Linked DNA regions of Homo sapiens: region 2 is linked to region 1. A link means that fine-mapping ties the variant in region 1 to the expression of a gene that starts in the linked region. Tissue or cell type: lung. Region 1 holds a variant in brackets; the other region holds the start of a gene. All regions are shown on one strand. Distances are between the middles of the regions.

Evidence for each region. PIP is the estimated chance that this variant, and not a neighbour inherited with it, causes the effect.
Region 2: DCP1A starts here. The variant in region 1 is fine-mapped to the expression of DCP1A in lung (TOPMed, PIP above 0.99).

The regions. Positions count from the first base shown.
Region 1 is chr3:53,647,332-53,655,439 of GRCh38, forward strand. It overlaps CACNA1D (calcium voltage-gated channel subunit alpha1 D), which reads left to right. Exons shown (of 48, transcript NM_001128840.3): 4 at 3,448-3,587. Among named protein-coding and RNA genes, the nearest start is that of CACNA1D, 160 kb to the left of the region's middle. The variant G/T (reference allele first, on the strand shown) is at 3,648.
Region 2 is chr3:53,343,652-53,351,750 of GRCh38, forward strand. It overlaps DCP1A (decapping mRNA 1A), which reads right to left and starts at 3,892. Exons shown (of 10, transcript NM_018403.7): 1 at 3,732-3,892; 2 at 1,251-1,291. The coding sequence starts at 3,866. It overlaps LOC105377094 (a long non-coding RNA gene), which reads right to left. Exons shown (of 3, transcript XR_940847.3): 3 at 7,119-7,228. RefSeq lists enhancers at 2,900-3,490, 3,491-4,081, 3,617-4,386.

The sequences.
Region 1 (8,108 bases):
CCTGGGGAAGGGCTGTTAAGGTACAGCTCCTGCTCAGGCCTTTTATACCAGGGACGCCTCATTTCATGTATGGTTCTAGAGGGTTCCTGCTGGCCCCTTCTTCTGCCATCCCAGTCTTTCATCCTTGACAGTGCTTCTTCCTCTGTGCTTCCATCAGTCGTGGCCACAGACCTCAGTGTCCTCTATGTGTCACCTCTCACCTAGCTGTTTTGGCTGGGCCCACAGTCCCACCTTGCCTGTTAGGAACCTGACTTTCTTGTTGGCTTCCTTTTCAAATTGTTAATTCAACATTCTTTTCTCAAATGAACAATCCTTTTGTAAGGCGAATAATTATCCCACTTCTCCTGAACGACGTTTTGCAAGATTTAAAAATAATACTTCATTTGTTGAATGTGGAGGGATACCTGTTTCATAGGATTCCTTTTTAGTGGCAGGATTGAGGACCGGGATGACATTGGCTTCTAGACAAACTGGTCTGCCTGCTCTCCAGGCTGTGATTGTTCAGTTGGCATCATGGTAGAATCTCTGTAATAAAGAATTGCATTAAAGGAAGTTTGTATTTCTTATGAAGAATCCCATCAAATAATTCACTAAGGATTTTGGAAAGAGAAACCAAATTCTTTAAAAAGCAGGGAGAGGGCAAAGGAGAAGGAAAAAGAACGTTAAACAGTTCATTTATACTAATGGCCCTTGTGTTATTGTGGCAAAATTTCTTCTAAATAAAAGTCAGAGAGGAAAAACAAGCTTTGTTTGGGAGGTGTACTGTCTGTTCTCTGCCTTGTTTTTCTGCTCTGAAGTATAGTGTGCTGTCTTGACGTAGGTATGTAACTGCTATGAATATTGATGGCAGCAAAAGCTTTTTTTTTTCTCTCTGGCCTAGTAAATAAAGCAGCAAGGATAAAAAGGGATGAATTGTAAAATCAGTGTGCTGTTTTTAGCTTCTCTGGTTCCCTTAGAACTCTTAAGTCTCAAACATATTGACAATCTGCCTTTGGTGGTCAGGGTCTGATGTGAGCACTGTGGGTTGGCATTTTCAGGGATTTTTGCCTCTGGTTGAAGTAACAGAGTTCCTTTTTCTTTGAGCTTTCAGAGTTAATGTTATGGCTTCATTGAGGCCTTCCTGTATCTTTCCCTCTATCCAGTGGCAATGCTGGTCCCTGCTCCTCAGAATACCGCAGTGGCCTGAGTGTGTGATCGTTCCTCCAGCAGCCACGCCTCGCATGCCTCCCGAGCAAGCACTCCTCTGGGGGATATGGCAGGGAATGGGGCAACGGGGAATCTGGACAGTAAGCAAGGAAGGGCATCCTCGTAGCTCTGAGCGTGGCATTTCATGTAGCTGTATGAAGGGCATGGGGGAAGAAGGCATGGGGGCATGGGATGAGCCTGGCTAAGAACAGGACTGGTCTGAAGTCTAGAGGGGGCATGAGTATAGAGGTTGGAGATGAGCTAGGCTTTCTAAATTAAATTATAAACACACTGATGCTGGCTAACTCTCAAAACACACACACACACACACACACACACACACACAATTCGTTCACTAGACTGTTATAATGGTGTTCTGAGGAGCAAAGGGAGCTTTGGAGGGCAAGTGTTTAGAAATGACAGGAACCACAACAGCCCTGTCCTTGGAAGGAAGCCCTGTTATATGACCAGTGAAGAGTGGAGAATGGGGGCAAAGACTGGGATGCATGGCCATGGCTGCATGGTGGTCAAGAGGGAGGATACCTGTGGCACGACAAAGGGATGTTCTGCCTGGCACGGCCGGTGACAGAGGGGAAGCGATTCTGGCAGCAGACAGCCGGAGCCCAGGGGCAGCACAGGCAAGGCTTCCATTTAAATGCACAAGGGTGTTGGGGATACTGCAAGCAAACATTTAATAGGTGACGGTTCCTCAAAGGGTCAGGCTTATGGGAATCATCCTAAAATTTGTGTTTTTAAAAATGTTTCTGAATATAAAGTGTTCTCTTCAGAAACATAAAATTTATTTTCAAATACACATTTGCCTATTGCATAAAAATATATAATAGTGATAATATATAGCAAAGTGCTTTTTTTCCCCCTGGAATCCGTTGTGAAAAGGCAGGGGTGGCCTGATGGGAGGGCTGAAGATAGAGAATCGCTCTTGTCAGTTACTACTTTTGTGACTCTTGAGAAATTCTCTGTGTGTACATTCAAAACTTCCCCCTCCACACACCTCCCCCCCACACCAACAGACTAAATGACAGGTACCATAGTGGGGACATTTTTCTGGCTCCTGGTACAGTGCCTGTCATTTAGAAGTGGTGTTCACGTGTTTCCTGAGCCTATTTTATTTTGACCTCTTGCCCTAGGCATTTTAATGAGTGAATTTCATGACCTCCATTTCTCTAAGGTATTGGTAACTTTTCGGGTCCCACTGATATTAGTATAGGACTCTATAGTTCATATTGGAAAGTTACAGTTGCTGATGATACTTTGTTATTTAAGTAGCTTCATGCCGAGGAATGCCTCTTGCAAAGTTAATTACACACATCTCTGTTGGTCCATGTTTCTATTGAAACTGAAGCTGTATAAAGAAAACATTTGTAAAAGAGGAAGGAGTCAAAGTTTTTAGACTTGCTGATTGGTATGTTTTCCACAGCTCATGGAGTTGCATGGGTTGGAACTGGAAAGGTTCTACGAGTCATTTAGCCCGTGAGCAGCACCTGTGAGGTCTGTGGCAGTCAGATGGGCATGGCTGCTGGGATGGATACTAGAGGAAAGGTCAGAGGCTCTGCCTAGGTTTCCTGGGAAAGTGCATGATGACCTGTCACAAGTTCAGCCGGGAGAGGCGGCATGCCAATAAGCAGGCAGGGTGTTTGCCATCCTGAATTTACTTCCCTTATTGTGTGGATGCAAAAACTTATATCCAGAGGAGGAGAAGGACTTGTCCAAGGTTACCTTGCTACTCAGTGACAAAGCTGACTGTGACTTCGAACTCAGACATAAACCCAAGAGGAAGAGAGGGTCAAAACAGATGCATCTTCATTTTTTCCAGAGGATGAATTTCTTCTGTTCAAAGACACCATTGGAATCTTTGTTGTACCCTTGTGCTTTTCTGGGCCTGATTTGGCAACCTCAGGAGGAAAGCATGCTGCGTTTTGCAAATGTGTGCAAATAACAAACATGCCTGTTATGTCCTAGGCAGACTCATCACACGCATTGGGGCAGTTGGCAAAATGCAGTCATGCAGCCTGGAACGAAAAGTGTTGCACACGTAGTTGCTTATGAGAAATTCAGTGTTAGAATGTAAATGCCTTCCTGGCCCAGGGGCAGTGTAATTGTTCCATTTCTCATAATGAAACTTTGTTTGGAGGGAAATGCTTATATGTCTAAGGTGTTGATTCTAATCTCTGTTCCTTTTTCTGTCTCCTCTTCCTCCCCTGCCCCTGCTTTTTTGGTATGTTTCTTTGTTTTTCTTCACAGGAAAAAGTAGAATATGCCTTCCTGATTATTTTTACAGTCGAGACATTTTTGAAGATTATAGCGTATGGATTATTGCTACATCCTAATGCTTATGTTAGGAATGGATGGAATTTACTGGATTTTGTTATAGTAATAGTAGGGTAAGTCTCTTTTACTTTGGGGAAATGTTGATTTGGAAAATGGGAGGTGGAGGTTGGGGG[G/T]GGTGGTGGTAACAAAACAGTCTTTTTAGGGAATGTGGTTGCTCTTTTATGCCAGCTGTTGCACCAGAACCTCTCAGGAGTTCTTTTAAGGCTGGTGATGCTGCTGTCAGTCTCTGGGCAGATACTAGTTTGAAATTCTCTCGTTGTTACTCCCGTTTTTAGTAACATGTTATAGAAGGGAGTCTGAACTCCTAATATGAGAGGCTTTACCTAACACGGTCTTGGATCTCCAGAAATAGACCAACCCTGTTGGTGATTAGAGTCAAATGAGTAGAGCTTTTAATACTTAGTGCCAATGTTAAGTTAAAAAAAGTAAAAAGTAATAAAACCTTCATAGCAGTAAGGTACTCTGCTATTTAACATCCCTTGAGCAAAGCTATTAATTTTCTTTTTTTTTTTTTTTTTTTTTTGCTGACTTGCGGGAGAAACTCTGGCATACTACTGTTCCATTTTAAATAATGAAACAAGTGTCTGGATAATGTCACGTATCTGGCATAAAATGAAATAAGCTAGAAAATGCAGAGAAGCAGGTGTTCCACCAAAATCCTGTTGCAGGAAGAAGACATCAGTAGTTTTAGTGAAAGGAGAATGTTAAAATAAAAAATAGTGGCCTGTGTTATTTTAGTCCTTCCACACCTGGAAATGTTGCCAGGAAGAGAAAAATGAATCCATGTTACAGGAATGCTGGGTCTTTGGACCAAATACCCATGTAGGAAGATAAGATATATCCTTTTTCCCAGTCTTAGTTATGCTAGCTGTAAAGTGAGTTGCTCCTCAAATTATGTTTCTGTAAATAGCCTCTCTGTTTTCATCTTCATGACTTCAGTGAACTGCCTTTTGCAGTTGAGCAAGGTGATTTTTCTTGTGGATTATCCTTTTATCATGAATCTTTTGCCTTTTCATTGGAGACTAATTCTGCTGGGTATTGGGAGAGTGGAATTGGTTGTGGGCCTTCCTAGGTCCTTTCAACCTAGGAAGTTAATATGAGATCCTAATTGCCCAGTGGGACAATTAGACTTGTGGGAAACAAGTTAGCTTTTCAAACCGCCCCCGCCGCCAATACATTGTCATTTAAGGCATCATTGCAAAAGAAGTGTACCAAAATGAACAGGTAGCAGATATGTGCCGTACTTTCCTGTATTTGGTGGACTCTGTCGAGGAATGGCAAGCCGAAGCCTTGCAGGTATGTTGGTTCTGGGATAATCTGGCTGTGCCTCTTCTGCCACTGGACTTTTTGTTCAGCTAGGAATGGAGATGCTTAGCCCCATTTCTTGCGTCACCGTGCTATGATCACCTCATATTTCTGCCTGGAGACATTTTTCACACTACAGCACAGCACAAGGACAGGGAACCAAGTGGAGCATGGTGGTCTTATTGAGTTAAGGAGACAGACAAGAGTTTGGGGAGGCAGAATAGGGGAGGGGAGGGAGCTATTTAGAGAAAGAGCTTCATAAATATGCCTTAGAGTACTCTTCAGTTTTGGCTGAGGGCTAAGCTACGCCTACACGGAGTTGTGAGTCCATGAGGCCAGGAAAGACCACTACTAGGGAAAAGAGAAAGATCAGGGAGCTGTAAAATGAATAATAACCAGGGCTCACAAAGGACTGGAAGGCATTCAAATTCTGACTAATTAGGGTGGAAAGACCTCATTGAACACCCTGGACTGTCAGTAGAGACCCCACAGGGCCACTGGTAGTAGTGCTAAACTGGCTCTAGAGCAGGGGCTGGCAAACTGTGGCCAATGGGCTAAGTCCTAGCCCATCTAGCCTGCCACCTATTTTTATAAATAAAGTTTTATTGTAACATGGCCACACTCATTTGTTTACATAGTTCAGTTTGAGTAGTTTAGGTCTACAAAACCTAAAATATTTAAATATTTACTATTTGGCCTTTTACAGAAAAAGTTTGCCAATTGCTGCTCTAGAGTACAGAGACTACCTGAAATCCTTGCTTACAATGTTTGAAAAGAAGTCTGAAAAGAAGCAAACTAGGCTGGGCATGGTGGCTCATGCCTATAATCCCAGCACTTTGGGAGGCCGAGGTGGGTGGATCACCTGAGGTCGGGAGTTCAAGACCAGCATGGCCAACATGGTGAAACCCCCTGTCTACTAAAAATGCAAATATTATCTGGGTGTGGTGGCGCATGCCTGTAATCCCGGCTACATGGGAGGCTGAGGCAAGAGAATCGCTTGAACCTGGGAGGCAGGGGTTGCAGTGAGCCAAAACCATGCCACTGCACTCCAACCTGGGTGACAGAGTGAGACTCCATTTCAAAAAAAAAAGCAAACTGATATGCTAACTGAACTGCCTGCCAGAACATAACTCAACATTCTTTAAAGGAAGACAACAAAATCCAGACACTGAACATATGAAGAAATGTGACCCATAACCAGGAGGAAACTCCGTCAGTAGAAACAGATCCTGAAATGACAGAGATGATGGAATTAGAGAAGGACTTCACAAAGCTTTAAAAACTGCTGTTATAAATTTATGGACTTAAAGGGATACCTGATTATAGTAAGGAAAGATGGGACAATATAAAAAAAAACAAATGGAACTTTAAGAGATGAAAAATATATCCAAAATGAAAAATTCTCTGGTTTGGCTTAACCTCAGCTTAAACACTATAGAAGGAAAAAATATCAGGGAATTTGAACATATGGCAATAACATGAAGAATAATGATTGAGGAGAAAATGAATACTGCCTCTGTGGCCTGTGGGGGAATAACAAGTGGTCTAACATATATATATATTTGGAGCCTCAGAAGGAGAGGAGAGAAAGAGGAGACAGAAAAAAAATTTTGAAGAAACAGCTCCAGATTTTCCAAATGTGATGAAAAATGAAACTCACAAGAAGCTCAGCAAAGCCTGAGCAAAATAAACATGAAAAAAGCCACATCAAGCACATCATAATTGTAATCAAATTGTTAAAAACCAAAGATAAGGAGAAAACCTTAAAACAGAGAAAAGAAAATCTCAGACTATTTGTCAACAACTATGCAAGCCAGAAGACAATAGAGAGACATCTTTAAAGTACTGGGGAAAAATGTCAACCTAGGATTCTCACTCAGTAAAATATCTTTCAGAGTTAAAGTCAAAATCAAAATTTTTTCAGACATTCTAGAGTTTCAGAATTCATGACTAATAGACCTGTACCTCAATCAGTGTTAAAGACAGTTCCTCAGGGCTGAAGGAAAATGACACGAGGTAGAAAAGTGGATCTACACAGAAAGAAATGAAGAGTACCAGAAAGTGGCTCTACACAAAAAAGAATGAAGAGTACCAGAAAGGGTAAATACGTGGGTACATATACAGATATTTCTCCCCTCGTTTAAAAATTTCTTTAAAGGTAATTATTTAAAGCAAAAATAATAACAGTGTATTGTGGTGTCTATAGCTTCTATAGAAATAAAGTACATGACAATGGTAGCATGAAGAATAGGAACAGGGAAATAGCCATATGGTCTTGTGATGTACTTATACAGTAGTTGGAATGATTAAATATTATCTGAAGATAGACTGTGATACCTTTAAGATGTATATTGTAAACCCTAGAGTATGGATTGGTGAGCTACAACCTGTAGACCAAATCTAGTTTGAGCCTTTTTTTCCCCCACCATTGACAAAGTATTTTATTTACTGCCTACTTTGGCAAATAAAGCTTCATTGTAATTCAGCCACATTCAGTCATGCCTATGGCTATTTGGTATTATAATGGCAAAGTTGGGTAGTTGTGACAAACCCTATGGCCTGCAGATTCTAAAATATTTACTATTCGGCACTTTATAGAAAATGTTTACTGACACTTGCCTTAGAGAAGCCACTAAAAAAGAAAATCCCAGGTCTATCTAATAAGCCTATTGTAGAGATTAAATGGAATTTAAAAAAAACCCCTAAATCCAAAACAGGCAAGGAAGAAGAAAAAAGGAACAAAGGACAGGACAAATAGAAAACAAACGGCAAGTTGCTAGATTTAAACCTAGGTAAATCCTTATTAAAATCATTATCATGAAGAAAGGATAATGGCCTTTCTTTGTGTCCATGTGTTCTCATCATTTAGCTCCTACTTATAAGTGAGAACGTGTGGTATTTGGTTTTTTGTTCCTGCGTTAGTTTGCTAAGGATAATGGCCTCCAGCTCCATCCACGTGCCCACAAAAGAAATGATCTTGTCCTTTTTTATGACTGCATAGTATTCCTTGGTGTATGTGTATCACATTTTCTTTATCCAATCTGTATTGATGGGCATGTAGGTTGATTCCATGTCTTTGCTATTGTGAATAGTGCCACAGTGAACATTAACATGCATGTGTCTTTATGGTAGAATGGTTTATTTTTCTCTGGGTGTGTACCCAGTAATGGGATTTCTGGGTCAAGTGGTAGTTCTGTTGTTAGCTCTTTGAGGAATTGATACACTGCTTTCCACAATGGATGAACTAGTTCACACTCCCACCAACAGTG
Region 2 (8,099 bases), 300 kb before region 1:
CCCAGGCTGGAGTGCAGTGGCACGACCTCGGCTCACTGCAAGCTCCGCCTCCTGGGTTCACGATATTCTCCTGCCTCAGCCTCTCAAGTAGCTGGGACTACAGGTGCCTGCCACCATGCCCAGCTAATTTTTTGTATTTTTAGTAGAGACAGGGTTTCACCGTGTTAGCCAGGATGGTCTTGATCTCCTGACCTCGTGATCCGCCCACCTCGGCCTCCCAAAGTGCTGGGATTACAGGCGTGAGCCACTGCACCCGGCCGATCCCTTCCTTTTTAAAAGCAGAAAGATGAATAGCAGGGAACAAAGAAAGTGTCTAAGAAAAAAGAGCTTGGTGTACAAATATCAAAGAATTACACTTAAAAGAAGAAAAAAATGAGTGCATTTAGACGAGATCTCAAAGCTTTGTATCAAAATTTAGAAGAGTATTTGACAAATTCTTTTAAATTGGCATCAATGGAGAAAGGCAATCCTTATGAAGCAACTCAATACAAAAAAAAAAGGGAAAAGACCAGATATCAGTAATAACTCCTGCTGACTCCCTAAGCTTTAGAAAACAAGGGAAGGAACCTGCCCTTGTAAGAGTTAAGACCTTAGAGGAATCCAGGAAAACAAGTACCCCATGACTATCATATACTGTCAGTTGTCTTTAGGCCCCAAAAGCTGCCTAACAAAAAAGTTGCAATTTGCAAACCAATCTTAAAGATAATGAATTTTTGAATAAGTCAAAAATAAAAAATACGCCATCATGAATAATCCAAGCTTTCTAAAGAACTCTCAAATAAGACACTGTACATAATCCAGAACTTCTGTGGGTTGGGAAAGAGGACAGAACCAGTCATAAAAGACAACCACTCATGTAGTAATGAAAGAACAGAGGGATCGACCTCTCAATAACATTATTTTACAGAGCCAGTCTATGTATTGTCTTTTCCCCAAATATATATCTTTCTTTTTCTTTCTAATATGGGGGTAGGAAGAGAGACGCAGGCATCCATTTTAGACTCAATCATTATTATTTTGAAATTGCTTTGCTAGGCTGGTAATATAAATTCTAGTTCAGTTTATTCTGAATCACAGAAAGGCTCAGAGAAAAGAAAGAACCTGGTTAAGATTTCACAGCTAGGGAAAGATGAAAACTTGAAGGGTACTAGCAGGACGGTTCCAAAGACAAATGTACAAGAGAATTGAACCGTTTCACATTGTTCACCACTAGACTGTTAAAAACAAATATACATATTTTAAAAACTTACCTTCGATATACGAATAAGGTCCCTTCTATATCAGTCTTCTCCTATGAAAGACAATGACTCAATTAGTTTTTTTTCCCCATAATCAGACCCCAAATAGTCCCCATGGAGAAGTAATGCTTCACGTTTAAGATCAACTTGTTTCATTTCATCTATTATAAAATTAACCACTTTTGAACAGGTAAAGTCTCCCTCTCATTCCACAAATTGTGGTTACCATTTCTAATGTATCCTTTCAGTGCATAAGCATATGCAATATTTAATCCAGCAACATATCTGTATCTGCAGTATTTTTCTTTTTTAATTAGTAAAGGAGAAAATCATAGAATAAACCTTCACTTTTTATAGCTAAAATATTTTAGCCAGATTTCTTAACTTTAAAGCTAAGGTCCTGTATACTGCAATTTCTTCTCTTTTAAGTTTATCCAAGTTAATTTTAAAAAAGGAAAGGAATGAAACTTTCTTATAGGATACTTTGTTTCATCACTAGGGAGTTTTCGTACATTTTGACAACTAGCAAATTTTGTGGTTAAGAATTACTACCAAACAAAATCAGCTTGTTATTTTTAGAACTTGAAGAATCTTGAATACTGAAAGTATACCCTGCCTCAGTGTAATTATTGGAGGCCTTTACCATAGTTCATTTTCTGTGACAAGAGTGTATTTAGGTTTTAAACACAGTTCAGTGTTTTTTAAAAAATAAATAAGCTTATTAGTCTGCAATTTACAGCCTACAATGGACCTAAATATTTTACTGTAATCAACGCATTATTAACATTTTAAATGTTAGTCATATATTGAATGTGTTGGGATTAAAAAATTTAGAAAATTGATCATCTCGATTTCTTCCAGAAGTACTACCCTAGCTTAAATATCATTATTTTCCTTCCTAAGGATTCAGAGGCTTTTTCTTACCTTTAAAATGTTAGGTTATTACTATAAGAAACTGGTAATCAACTGTCTTACAGTAAAAGAAAATTTGCCCACCAAAAAACATCATGCAAAGTTACAACTCACTGTAAAATAATAAAGAGGGAAAAGATTTTTGTCATGCTCTATGTGCCAGGATCCAAATAAACAGTAGCAGCTTATTTTTCAATTCAGGTTATTATAGCTTGTATTTCATATTTAAAACAGAACTCCACAATGTAAAATTTTAAAATATTGAAAGCCTTTGTGAAAAACTAGGAAAACTCTAGCCCCAAGTCTTCACCATTTGTCGGCAATCCATATTTCAAAATTTATATATAGGCCAAGAAAAGAAAAAAGATTCATAAAATTTCAAACTAAGGCAATGTCTAAAATAGCTACATTTAAAAAACAATCTACAATTTTATTCCTTGTGGCTTCCCATATCTCCTTCTCTTCCAGGAGGCAAAGATAAACAACGTGATTATAAAAACTCTTCATCTGAATTAACTGTTCATAAATGCCAAATGATTTTCGATAAATTACTGATAAATATAATCTATGCAACTGTATTATAGGGTAAACGACATACTACGGTCATCTTCCAGAGTTCTGTCAGTTTAAGGATTTCGTATCTTATTGAAATGTGAACTCCAGTCATTGGTGAATTCAATCCAACAAGCATTTACGTATTACTTTCTAAGTGTAAAGCCTGTAGCTGAATGAGTTAATTAGGAAGGGTCAATTACAAGAAAGTGGGAAATTATGCTTTTTAAACAACTAACAAAGCTTCAAGCAGGGGCTAACAAGAATCAGTGAACACACTGAATGTGACTTTTCGGACCCTCCCCAGTGCACGAAAGCCAGAAAGTACTGAGTCCGAGGGGAGCATTCAGAGATGACATCACCAGCATCATAGATGGAACAAAACACATTTACAGGGTCTCTCTTGTTTGTACAAAGGTCTTCGGGGATCCAGTGAACACGGAAGCCCTTTTCCTAAGTGCCTTGGAATCTTTTCCGAAACTCTGTGTAGTTCGATTAAAGCCGGACCCACCCACCCCCTCCTTCCAAGAATCGAAACTAATTGGATTTTAAACTTTAAACCCAAATGACCTCTGCGACAGGGGCTCTCATTTACGTTTGCCAGGGGGAGAGGAGGAGTGTTTATTTTATAGATAATGTACATATAATTTATCTAATAATCCGCAAAGCCTCAAACACAAGCTTTCAGGCACCCTTTTGACCCCACCGGTCTTATAACTCCCAATGTATCTGCAAAGAAGGCAGGTCGCCCACGTCCCCAGACCCGACGCCAAGGGACTGATCCTGCTCCAATCCTCCCCTCCACTGGCTTTTCCTTGGGATGTCTCGAGCCACTTCTCTCACTCCTATCCCCCAATCCCAAGCGGACCCGACACCCCTCAGGCTCTGGCTAGGCTCTTGGCCAGACCCTGGCCTCGTCTCCACCGCCCTGGCCTCTTAGTGTGCCCCCCCACCCCACAGTAACCCGCGCGGCCCCTTTAAGAGACGGCAGCGGCCGGGTGGCCGTCCTCAGGGCCAGGCGGCACTCACCCACTGGTTGGCCTTGGGGCAGAAGGTGTACAGAGCGACCTGGCCCGTGAGGTCTGCGATGCTGGTGATATAGGGGTCGTGTTGCTTCAGGGCCGCTAGGCTCATCTCCTGCCCAGCTCGACTCAGCGCCTCCATCTTGAATCCCAGAGCCTAGCCCCTCTGGTGGGGGCGGAGTCGCGGACAGGAAAGTGCCATCGAGGCAAAATTCCCCCATCTGCGTCAGTCCCCTCAACTTCCGCCTCTACGCGGGCCTCGCGGCAGGGCGGTACGTCAGCCATTCTGGTCCGCCGCGCGCACGCTCCGGGCGCCGGGTTCCGGCGTTGTCAGGGTCCGCGGCCCTACGATGTGGGCGGTGTCCAAGGCTGCGTAGTGGAGCTTGCAGGCTGGAGCTCCGGCGCTTCCTTTCCCTGAGCTAAAACGACTGGGTCCTGGGATCTGGCCTCTAGCTCGCCTGCCGAGCTCTTTCCAGGCAAAGGTTGGAGACCGCCGAAGTGCCGGCCTCGCGGTGCGCTGTCTGGCAGGGCCCGGGGCCACAGAAGGAAAACATGTCTGTGGAATGTGGAAATGCGGGACTCTACCGGGCCCGTTTAGAGAGCACAGAAAAACATGGGGGAAAGGGAGAGGCGAGAAGCCCAGAAAATTACCCTAGGTCTCAGATATGGATGTGTCGACCTAAAAGGAAGAAGACTCTGGGGCAAAATAAATGCAAGCAGAGAGTTTATTTGGGCCAAGCTTGAGGATTGCACCCCAGGAGCATAGATTCAAGTTGCCTTGAATATATACACTGATTAGCAGAAGGTACAAGTGGATTTTTTTTCTTTTTTTTTGAGACGGAGTTTCACTCTTGTCGCCCAGGCTGAAGTGCAGTGGCGCGATCTCGACTCACTGCAACCTCCGCCTCCAAGGTTCAAGCGATTCTCCTGTCTCAGCGTCCCCAGTAGCTGGGATTACATGGGCGCGCCACCATGCCCTGATAATTTTTGTGTTTATAGTAGAGACGGGGTTTCGCCATGTTGGCCAGGCTAGTCTCGAACTCCTGACCTCAGGCGATCCACCCGCCTCTGCCTCCCAAAGTGCTGAGATTACAGGCTTGAGCCACCGCGCCCGGCCCTTTTCTTTTTTTCTTTTTGAAACGGAGTCTCGCTCTTTTGCCCAGGCAGGAGTGCCGTGGCACAATCTCAAGCTCACTGCAACCTCTGCCTCCAGGGTTCAAGCGATTCTCCTGCCTCAGCCTCCCAATTAGGTGGGATTACAGGCGCCCGCCACCACACCTGGCTAATTTTTTCTTTTTCTTTTTCTTTTTTTTGAAATGGAGTTTCGCTCTGTCGCCCAGACTGGAGTGCCGTGGCGCGATCTCAGCTCACTGCAACTTCTGCCTCCTGGGTTCAAGCGATTCTCCTGCGTCAGCCTCCAGAGTAGCCGGGATTACGGGCGCCCGCCACCACGCCCAGCTAATTTTTGTATTTTTTTTAGTAGTGACGAGGTTTCACCACATTGGCCAGGCTGGTTTTGAACTCCTGACCTCAGGTGATCTGCCCTCCTTGGCCTCCCAAAGTGCTGGGATTACAGGCGTGAGCCACTGCGTCTGACCCACATAAATATTTTTGTCCAGCCCTGGGAAGAGTCCATGAAGGGTTTAATTTGTCTTGCTTCATTTAAAGCATTAAGCAGATCACTCATTTCATTGGTAAGTGTCTGTTGAGCATTTTAAAGCGTTTGAAAGAGTTAGGCACTAGCTAACAAGTAAAACAAATCATGGAGACTATAGGGAGTTCTATCCCCGCCAGACTTCTTAAAAAGCAACATTTCTTTCGTTAAAAAGGTCATGGAGGCTGGGCGTGGTGGCTCATGCCTGTAATCCCAGCACTTTGGGAGGCTAAGGTGGGAAGACCGCCTGAGGTCAGGAGTTTGAGACCAGCCTGGACAATATGGTGAAACCCCGTCTCTACTAAAAATACAAAAATTAGCCGGGCGTGGTGGCGCACGCCTATAGTCCCAGCTGCTTGGGAGGCTGAGACAGGAGAATCACTTGAACCCGGGAGGCGGAGGTTGCAGTGAGCCAAGGTGGTGCCATTGCACTCCAGCCTGGGCGACAGAGCAAGACTCAAAAAAAAAAAAAAAAAAAGGGTATGGTAGCTAGATGTGTGGGCTCACGCCTGTAATCCTAACACTCTGGAAGGCCGAGGAAGGTGGACCACTTGAGGTCAGGAGTTGGAGACCAGCCTGGCCAACATGGTGAAACCCCATCTATACTAAAAATACAAAAATTAGCTGGGCGTGGTGGCACATGCCTGTAATCTCAGCTACTCAAGAGGCTGAGGCATGAGAATAGCTTGAACCCAGGAGACGGAGGTTGCAGTGACACAAGATTGCACCACTACACTCCAGAGCTTGGGCAACAGAGGGAGAAATTCCATCCAAAAAAAAAAAGGGGGGGGCATGGTGGCATGTAACTGTAGTCCCAGCTATTTGGTAGGCTGAGGTGGGGATCACTTGAGGTCAGGAGTTCAAGACCAGCCTGAGCAACATAGCAAGACTACGTCTGGAAAGAAAAAAAAATTGACATCCCCAACAGAATTGAAAATTTTTGTAAGATAAAACCATATTTTCAAGAAAATAACACTAAATATTTGTATTGCCTATGATTTTATATCCCAGGACCACTGTTTTTTGTCATTGTGTTGATGAGAAGAGTCAAACTCTGTAAAATAGTTGAAGAAATTTATTCTGATCCAACTATGAGTGACCATAGCCCTTGACATAGCTCTCAGGAGATCCTGAGAACATGTGCCCAAGGTGATTGGGGCACAGCTTGGTTTTATACATTTTTGGGAGAGATGAGACATCAAATACATTTCAGGTGTATATTGGTTCTGTCCAGAAAGGTGAAACAACTTGAATTGTGTGCCAGCACACCTGGCTAATTAAAACTTTTTTTTTTTTTTTTTTTTTTTTTTTTTAGAAATGGGGTCTGGCTCTATTGCCCAGGCTGGTCTCAAACTCCTGGCCTCAACCAATCCTCTGGCCTGGGTCTCCCAAAGTGTCCCTGATAAAATGAGTTTTTTCCCCACTGTGTATCAGTCACAAACAAAGAATATCCCATTGAAAAAGGCAATCAGGTTTTATTCATTTGCCAGGGAATGGAGAAGGTGAGCTCTTCCTCTGAAAGCATCTTTTCTTGAAGAATAAAAGGCAAGGGGTTTATTGCCTTTATTCCTATGGGGCAGGAAAGGAATGTTAGTATGTGCAGGGTGGGACTCCAGACACGCAGGCCCAATTCATAAACATGCATCTTCATATATCATATGTACACAAAATGGCAGAGATTTTCTTTTAGGGAAGGGAAATTAGCATTATAATGATATGTTCATGATCTAAAGGCACCCAGGGTTTGCCAGTTCCCATTTGCGCTGGTTTTATGGTGTCTTATCTTCCTCTGGCATCTGGTCAGGGGTCAAGAAGCTCTGGCGCCATCTGGTTTCTTTAAGCAGCAGTGTCTATAGATAAAGGGACCAAAGAAAAACAATAAGAAAAAGGAACTTTCCCAGTTATTTTGTCAGGGCTGTCCTGGTTAACAAAAATGCTGAGATTACAGGCTTGAGCCACCGTGCCCAGCCCCCCTGTTTGTTAATGTAAAGAGAAATTTAGATTCTTTGCAGAATCATGTAAACATGTACAAATGTGGACAAAGACACAGATATCATTCATTCACTCTTAAGTCAGTATTTATTGAACTCCTAATTGTGAGCTGGTGGCCCCTTGGGAGCATCTCACTCTGTTTAAGACATTCCTGGCTCTGAGGGAAAAAAGAAAGTAGGACAGTGCAAGGAAACAGGGATGATGCTAGAGACATTTCTCTTTGAAATCCAGAGGACAGAGCCGCTAACTTAACTGGCTGGGAAAGTCTAGGAGGGCTTCCTGAAGGAGATGATGTTCAAATTGGTGTTCTAGGGATGACTGGGAGTTCAGGGGAAAAAAGTAAGGCCTCTGGTTCATTTCACAGCTCAGTGGTGAGGTAGAGAAGATGTCGTCACCCTCATTTGACAGATGATTTAATTGAGACCTGTGGGGAGAATTCACTGGCTCAAAATTCCACACTAGTCACAGAGGATCCAGTATTAGAATCTAGGGACTCCTATCTTCTACCCTGGGATCCTTTCCTACACGCCCCAGATGCCTTTCTTCCTTCCAGTGGCTGGAGGTAAGAGCCCTATTCCTCTCTACTTACCTTCAATCTGTTTTAAAAATCCGCACCCTAATTTTTAAAAATCTGCACTTTAATGTTTAAAAAACATACATTCATCTGGTACAAAATTCAAAAGGCACACCTGAAACTTAGTTTTTTTTCTTACATAGATTTCCTAAAAT